2 linked regions of the Homo sapiens genome follow. The protein of the gene in region 2 interacts with the protein of the main gene of each other region in a pairwise test. Each region holds a gene or a part of one and is shown on either strand. Other genes may lie near its edges.

Region 1 (3,812 bases), on a different chromosome or scaffold from region 2:
AAACAAGGAATTCATATTTCAATTTTCCCCCTGGTTTCCTGCTACCACTTTAACTCTACTTCTAATTGCTATTTTAATTGTATGTTAAAGCTTTTCTTCCAAGTTAATCATAACAAAAATATACAAATGCTGAAATGACCTTTAAAATGTCTCACACTAAAGAATATGGCCAAATAGAAACAAAAAGAATTCACGTGATTTATCTTTTTAGTTAACCCAAATATTACAAGAAAAATCTAAATGATATTAATACTAGGATAACTTTGAAATCTAACTTTCAGAAAAACTATCAACTTCCTTCATCTTCAAAATCTCCACACCTTTTGTAAAATAAAATGATATCTAAAATATATATTATTTAAAGCCAACATATACTCTGTCCTCGTAAGTTTAGAAAGTGGATAAATGTAGTAGTAGGAATACAAACCCCTAAAATGTATATACCATAATAATTAACATACCATCAAGAAGTTACCCTGTTTCTTGCTTCAAAATTGAATCGAGGTGGGTACATTGTAAGTTTCAATATCAGTATATGAAATTTGCATAGAGCTATAAAGCCATACCTATATTCTGATAGCTTAGGTCATTCTCAACTCCTTTCTCCATGTCTAAACTTTTTGAATAGTTTATTGCCTGTTTCAGTTTTCTCTCTGTATGTGAGGCACTAGCAGTAAACTTGTACAGGTTTGATTTTTCAGATCCAAAATGAGCCACACTGGGTTTCTGTAAGAAGCAATGTTTTCTATGGAAATGCTGCTGTGCACTCTCAGGATCATGAAATGCTTTGGTGCAGGTGCCACACTTGATTACATACTGCTGCTCCTCCTCATCACTCTTTTCTTTGTGCACTTGATGGATATGAGTGTTCATGTCGGTTAAATTCTGTGCTGTTGCCGAACATAAACTGCAGCGAAACCACAGTTTTCCTTTATCCAGCATGATTTGGAGACATCTGCTATAATCTTCTTTTCTGTTGACTTTACAGATGTAACTCTCACGGCAACCACAAGTTAACTGGTTACTGGTCTCTATTACTGGAAAATCATCTTCGGTTTTAATTGAAGTTTCAGTTTTTTCTGACACAAATACATAATCTATGCTGTGGTGCTCCTCATAATGACTCAGAAATGCTTCTTCCACATTAAAGATAAGATCACAAAGCCCACAGAAGTATTTAATCTTTATCTCATTGTCATGCTCATCTTGGCAATGTCGGTACAATGTTTCTATCTTATGAAAAGGCTTTCTGCAGTGAGCACAGCTGTATCTATGAAACTTGTGGCTTGCCAAAGACATGCAGTGCTGTTTTACATATTCCTGGGAATCAAACATATCTTCACAAATCCGGCATTGCCATTTACCCCTCGGAGAACTATTTGCCGGGGAATGATCAATAACAGTAATAGCTGATGAAGGCTTGTTAGCAGTCAAATTATCCAATGTTGTAGAGGATGATGGCAAAGTTTCACCTTCTACCTCATCCATCTCATAAAAATATCTGTGTCCATTATGAAATTCAGTCACATGTGCCATGATAGTATCTTTCCTTGTTAACTCCTTTTTGCATGTCCGACACCAGAAAAGAAAGTTATTTAAATGTGCCCCTCCGTGAATCCGGCTCATGTGTAAACGAATGACCCCTGAATCATCACATACCTTTCCACAGACCACACATTTATAACCCATTGTGTTTGCTGAGAAAACATGCTTTTCTACTGCATCTTCACTTGGGAATCGCTGATTGCATTCACAGAACCAGGTTTTAACTACTGATTTTTCTTTCTGGACACAAGCAACACCTTCATGGCTTTTATCTTTTAAATTCATCTTCTTTTTTGGAATGGCAATGCACTCCAGTGAGCTAGATTCTTTAATAGACATGGTTCTTTTAAGTGATGAAAATTTTGATTGATCCAACAATAAATGCAAGTCAGAAGAAGGATCCTTGTTCCCTTCGCTGCTGTGGCAATAGAGTAAGACTGATTCTTCCACTGAGTTAATGACTCGGACTTTGTGTCCTGAATTCTGCTTATGATTTTGGGTGCTGGTTTCATCCACAAAGACTTGATTGCAATCTGGACAATAACCTCTTAATATGAATTTCTCTGCAACCTGGGTAATGCTCTTCTCAGCTACAGCTACAGGTCCAGCATTTCGACAATGAACTCTAAATTAGATAAAAAGAAATAGAAAGTCTTTCAGAAGTATTTTCTAAATATACCATTGCTGCATTTTATTGCAGGAATTATAAAATAACCAACGTATAAATAAGCACTAAAAGATACTTTTCAATAAAGATGCAAATGACATAATGATGTTCTATCATCTCAAAATACTTGAGTATTATCTGCACTTTATCTATTTCTAGTTAAAATACAAAAGGCTAAAACTAGATTCAAAATTTTTTAAATTCAGGCAAATTTTAGAAAACTAAAATCTGTATCAAAAGCACTGACAGAGGACCTTATTGAACAGGCAAATTATTAGACTCTCCATGGTAATTAAACTGTATGTAAGAACACTATGGTTAAGATTCTAGACAACCCAGTTCCTATTCTTTAATAACTGATTAATGTTGATACTATAAGGCTATGGTAACCAAAACAACATGTACTGGTATAAAAACAGACACACAGATCAATGGAACAGAATAGAGAACCCAGCAATAAAGCCACATACCTACAAACTACTGATCTTTGATGAAATTGACAAAAATAGACACTGGGGAAAGGACACCCTATTTAATAAATGGTGCTGATAAAACTTGACAGCCATATGCAGAAGAATAAAACTGAACCCATATCTTTCATCATATACAAAAAATAACTCAAGATGGATTAAAGGCTAAGACCTGAAACTATAAAAATTCTAGAAGAAAACCTAGGAAAACCCCTTCCGGACAATGGCCTAGGCAAAAAATTTATGACTAAGTCCTCAAAAGCAAATGCAACAAAGCCCTAAAATAGACAAATGGGACTTAAAAGCTTAAGCATAGCAAAAGAAATAATCAAGAGAATAAACAGACAACTTACAGAATGGGAGAAAATATCTGCAAACTATGCATCTGACAAAGGACTAATATTCAGAATCTACTAGGAACTTAACAAGAAAAAAATCCACAAATAATCCCATTAAGAAGTGGGCAAAGGACATGAACAGACATTTTTCAAAAGAAGACATACAACTGGCCCATAAATACTCAACATTACTAATCATCAGAGAACTTCAAATTAAAACAATGCGATACCATCTTACACCAGTCAAAATGGCTGTTATTAAAAAGTCAAAAAACAACTGATGTTGGCAAGGATACAGAGAAAAGGGAACACTTATACACTGTTGATGGAAATGTAAATTAGTACAACCTCTATGGAAAACAATATGGAGCTTTCTTAAAAAACTAAAAATAGAACCGCCCTTTGATCCAGCAGTCCCACTACTGGTATCTACCTTAAGAAAAAGTAAGCATTATATCAAAAAGACACCTACACTTGTACATTTACCGCAGCACTATTGACAATAGCGATAATGAATGGAATCAACCTAAGTGTCCATCAATGGATTATTGAATAAAGAAAATATGGTATATATACCATGGAATACTACTGAGTCATAAAAAAGAATGAAATCATGCCTTTTGAAGCAACATGTATGGAACTGGAGGCCATTATCCTAAGTGAAATAACTCAGAATGTCAAATACTGCAAATTTTCATTTCTAAGTGGGAGTTAAACAATGGGTACACGTGGACATATAGAGTGGAATAATAAACAGATATTGAAAACTCCAAAAGGTGGGAGGTTGGGAAA
Region 2 (3,776 bases):
AGCCAGGAGGCCCGGCCCCGCCCACCGCGCGCCCGCCTCTCTCTGCAGACCACCGGCTAGAGCAGGAGCACGAGCTCTTCCGCTGTTTCCAGGATCCCTGCCGGCTGGGCACGCGCCAAAAGCAGCCCTGGGCCCTGGGTATCGCGCTTGGGGGGAGGGTACCCCCGCCGGCTGGGCACGCGCCAAGAGCAGCCCTGGGCCCTGGGTATCGTGCTTAGGGGGAGGGTATCGGAGCGGGAAGTGGACCTGGGGAGCGCCGTCGGCTGAGGCTCTGGCTGATGCCGCCCTCCCCCGGATCCCCCAGGGACCGCGCTGAGCACCTCCGTGCTCCACCAGTCCATGGCCTCCTCCCCCAAGATGCCGAGGCGGTGAGTTGCGACCTGGATGTAGGCACTGCCCGCCCGAAGCGCGCGGAGGGGCCCTGGCCTTGATGACACCGCCCCCCTACCAGGGCCCTGGAGCAGGAGAAAGGGCGCCACCTCTACCTGGCCGGCCTTCCCGGCAGAAGCCGCCGAGCTAAGCCCTGGAGAGGTCGGCGCCTGGACTACATCACGTACCGCGGAGTTCCCGGGTGGCTGGGCCTGCGGCACTGGGACGACCCTCAACCTGACTCCCGCCCCCAGGAGGTGGAGCAGGTGACGTTCAGTACCGCCCTGGAGGGGCTCACGGACCACCGGGCAGTGCGCCTGCAGCTCCGAGTCTCAGTGTCCTCCTAAGGCAAGCACAGATGAGGGGCGCGCGGCTGGCGCGCACAGACACGACTCGGAGCACGAACTAGGCGCCGTAGCTGCGTCCCCAGAACCGGGAGACTTAAGGCATCTTTATTGCGGGATCCTCACACGGCCTCCTGGGCCCGGCGATACTCATAGACGCTGCCGTGCTCGGGAAAGGCCAGTGCTTGCGGGGGCGACCCCGGCGGTGGGGCGGGGTCCTCCGGGTCCCCATAGCCACCGCCGCCGGGCGTGTGGAGACAGAACACATCCTGTTGGCGCGGGGGGGGGCGGGGAGGCGGGCTCAGTGCAGGCGTGGCCCCTCCCTGTCACCTGCGCAGTCCCCTCCCCACCGGGCAGCGTCCATCACCCGCCCCCATGGACCACGGAGGCCCGGTACGCGCCCCCTTTCCTTCCGGGGCCAAATTAAACTCGGCCTCTGGTCAGGTCTGCAACTGTTCCCCCTCTGTGGGATGGGGCCGGGAGGGGAGGGGAGGGGAGGGGGACAGGACAGGCCGCGGCCCTTACCCCGGGGTACACGGTCACCGACGTCTTGCCGCCCAGATTCACCGTCCGGCCGTTTTTGCGGATCAGCAGGTTTAGGCCGCGGGCGCCAGGCTCGCCCCCTGCGGAGGGAGGCGAGGAGTCCAGAGAGACCAGGGGCGGGGGTGGGGGCGGGGGCGGGGAGGGCCGCGAGGGCTGGGGAACCGCGCACCGTGGAGCCCGTATGGCCGGAAGGCGCGGCGCTCGGTCAGCACTGACAGCAGCGCCTCCTCACGAAAGAGCAGCTCGCGGGTGACGCCGTCGCCGCCTCGGAAGCGGCCTCTGCCCCCCGAGCCCCGCCGCAGCTCGAAGCGGCGCAGGATGACCGGGTACCTGCGAGGGCGAGGACGAGGGCAAAGACTCAGCGTGGCCCGAGCCCCGGCTCCCACCCGGCCGTGCCCCCAGCCTCCGCGCACGCCGCTCACCGGCTCTCCAGGATCTCAGGGTCGGTGATGCGTGTGTTGGTCATGTGGCTGTGCACACCGCTGCGCCCGTGCCAGCTGGGACCCGCGCCCGCGCCGCCCGCCACCGTCTCGTAGTAGCCCATGTGGGCGTTGCCCAGGGTCACGTTGTTCATGCAGCCCTGGTGAGGGCACCTGGTCGCTGCGCTGGGCTGGGGCAGGGCGTCCCCACCTCGCCCTCCCGCTCCTACTCCAGCCTGCCCACCCAGTCCGCCCCCGAGCTGCGCCCACCCCGCCCCCGCACCTGGGAGGCGGCGCAGGCCCCAAAGGCCCCCAGGATGACATCCACCACGCGCTGCGACGTGAGCACGTTGCCGCCCACCACCGCCGCCTCGGGCGACGGGTCCAGGATGGAGCCTCGGGGAATGACCACGCGCACTGGCGCCAGGCAGCCCTGTGCGGGGCGGGCGGCTCTCAGGAGCTCTTGGGGTGGGCTCCGGGAGAAACAGCACCCCACCCCCCGCCCCAGCACCCGTGGGGTCAGACCGTGGCTGGGCCCAGGAGGCGCACTCAGGGTGACCTCGGGCTGGGGCCCCCCCTCGCGCACACACCCCTGCGAACCTGGTTGAGTGGGATGTCGCGGCCCACCAGACAGCGCAGGCAGTAGATGAGGGCGGACAGGGTTACGGCCCGCGGTGCGTTGAGATTACCAAACACCTCCGGCCCAGTGCCGCTGAAGTCAAACACGGCGCTGCCCTGCGCGCCCCGAGGGAAGGGAGAGGCTGTCAGCGGCCGCACCGTGCCCCTGCCGCCTAGAGGCACTCTCCCCACGGCCCACCTGACTCAGGCTGATCTGCACACGGAGGCGGATGGGGGAACCGTCGTCCATGTGGTCTTCCGAGGACACCTCCAGGGGCAGGCCCCGGGCCTGCCGGGAGGTTCCAAAGGCACGCAACATGTCTCGCACGGCCAGCTCAGCGTTTGCCTGGCAGGGAGCAGGATCAGTGGTGGCCAGGTCACCTGCAGGATGGCCCTGCCGCCCACACTCCTGTGCCCAGGCCCACCTGAATATGGCCCATGTAGGCCTGCACCACGTCCAGGCCGTACTGCCCAATGAGCTCCCCCACCAGCTGGATGCCCTTCTGGTTGGCTGCCACCTGGGCACGGAGGTCCGACAGGTTGTCGTGCAGGTTTCTGGTTCCGCTGCAGTTGGGGACCTTGCCTGGCGCCCGCAGGGCCTCCGTCACCGCTGGATGGACAGTGTCATCACTGAGCCCCTGGCCAACCCTGTCTGCACCCCCAACCCAGGTTTCCCAGATCCAGACAAGGTCTCTGGCCCCTAGAAAGCACCGAGGCCTGGCCTGGGACTGCTCAGCACCTCAGGAAAGCCCCTCTCCTTGAGCCTGGCTCAGGGTCCCCTCTGAGGCAGCCACAAGGCCCTCTGCAGTGTGCCTGTGCATGTCCCTCTGTGGTCCACAACCCCTGCCCCAGCTCACATTGACCAAGGGAGCAGCCAGCAATGGGCCACCCTATCTGTGTCCTCAACACCCAGAACAGCCTGTGGTTCCATTACACCCACCCTCTGCCACCACCCTCCACCCTGGCCACGCCACTTCCCCTGGGCTCCCAGACCTGCAGCCTCAGACCAGGGCTGTTTTTCCCTGTCTCTCCTACCCCCACCCCCACCACAGGCACCCCTGCAGCCTCCATCCCCCCTTCCCTGCAGCTGCTCAGTGCCAGGCCCTCCACCTCCAGCTGCCCAAACTTGACCCCTGGCCCCCTCTCCCAAATCCCTCCAAATACCCACCTCCACCTCTAAAACTGTCCCCCACCCCCCGCCCTCGCTCTCCACTCAGCCCAAGACATCAGCATCATCCAGGGCAACTGCAGCTTCCCCCCACCTTGCCCCCCAGCCTCCAGGCCACTCTCAAGACCCCGAATCCTCTCTGCACGTGGGCACAGTGGGAGCTCAGCGCAGGCCCAGCTGAAAGCCCTTCACGGCCACCCACCACCCAGTGACTCAGACCTAGGCCCAGAAAACTCTACAGGGGCCTTTGGGCCCTGCCCCTGCCCTGCTGTTTCTCTGCGGACCCCACCCAGTATGACTGCACACACCACAAGC

Evidence for each region.
Region 1: the proteins of OPLAH (region 2) and ZNF451 interact in a two-hybrid assay, tested with the Homo sapiens proteins (one large-scale study listed by BioGRID).

Annotation. Positions count from the first base shown.
Region 1 is NC_000006.12:57,145,448-57,149,259, reverse strand, and holds part of ZNF451 (E3 SUMO-protein ligase ZNF451), read right to left. Parts: intron 2,171-3,812; coding exon 567-2,170; intron 1-566. UniProt on the Homo sapiens protein: E3 SUMO-protein ligase; has a preference for SUMO2 and SUMO3 and facilitates UBE2I/UBC9-mediated sumoylation of target proteins. Plays a role in protein SUMO2 modification in response to stress caused by DNA damage and by proteasome inhibitors (in vitro).
Region 2 is NC_000008.11:144,050,491-144,054,266, forward strand, and holds the end of OPLAH (5-oxoprolinase), read right to left. Parts: intron 2,904-3,776; coding exon 2,719-2,903; intron 2,640-2,718; coding exon 2,493-2,639; intron 2,411-2,492; coding exon 2,276-2,410; intron 2,109-2,275; coding exon 1,959-2,108; intron 1,837-1,958; coding exon 1,679-1,836; intron 1,587-1,678; coding exon 1,426-1,586; intron 1,337-1,425; coding exon 1,239-1,336; intron 983-1,238; coding exon 836-982; 3' UTR 776-835; downstream 1-775. UniProt on the Homo sapiens protein: Catalyzes the cleavage of 5-oxo-L-proline to form L-glutamate coupled to the hydrolysis of ATP to ADP and inorganic phosphate.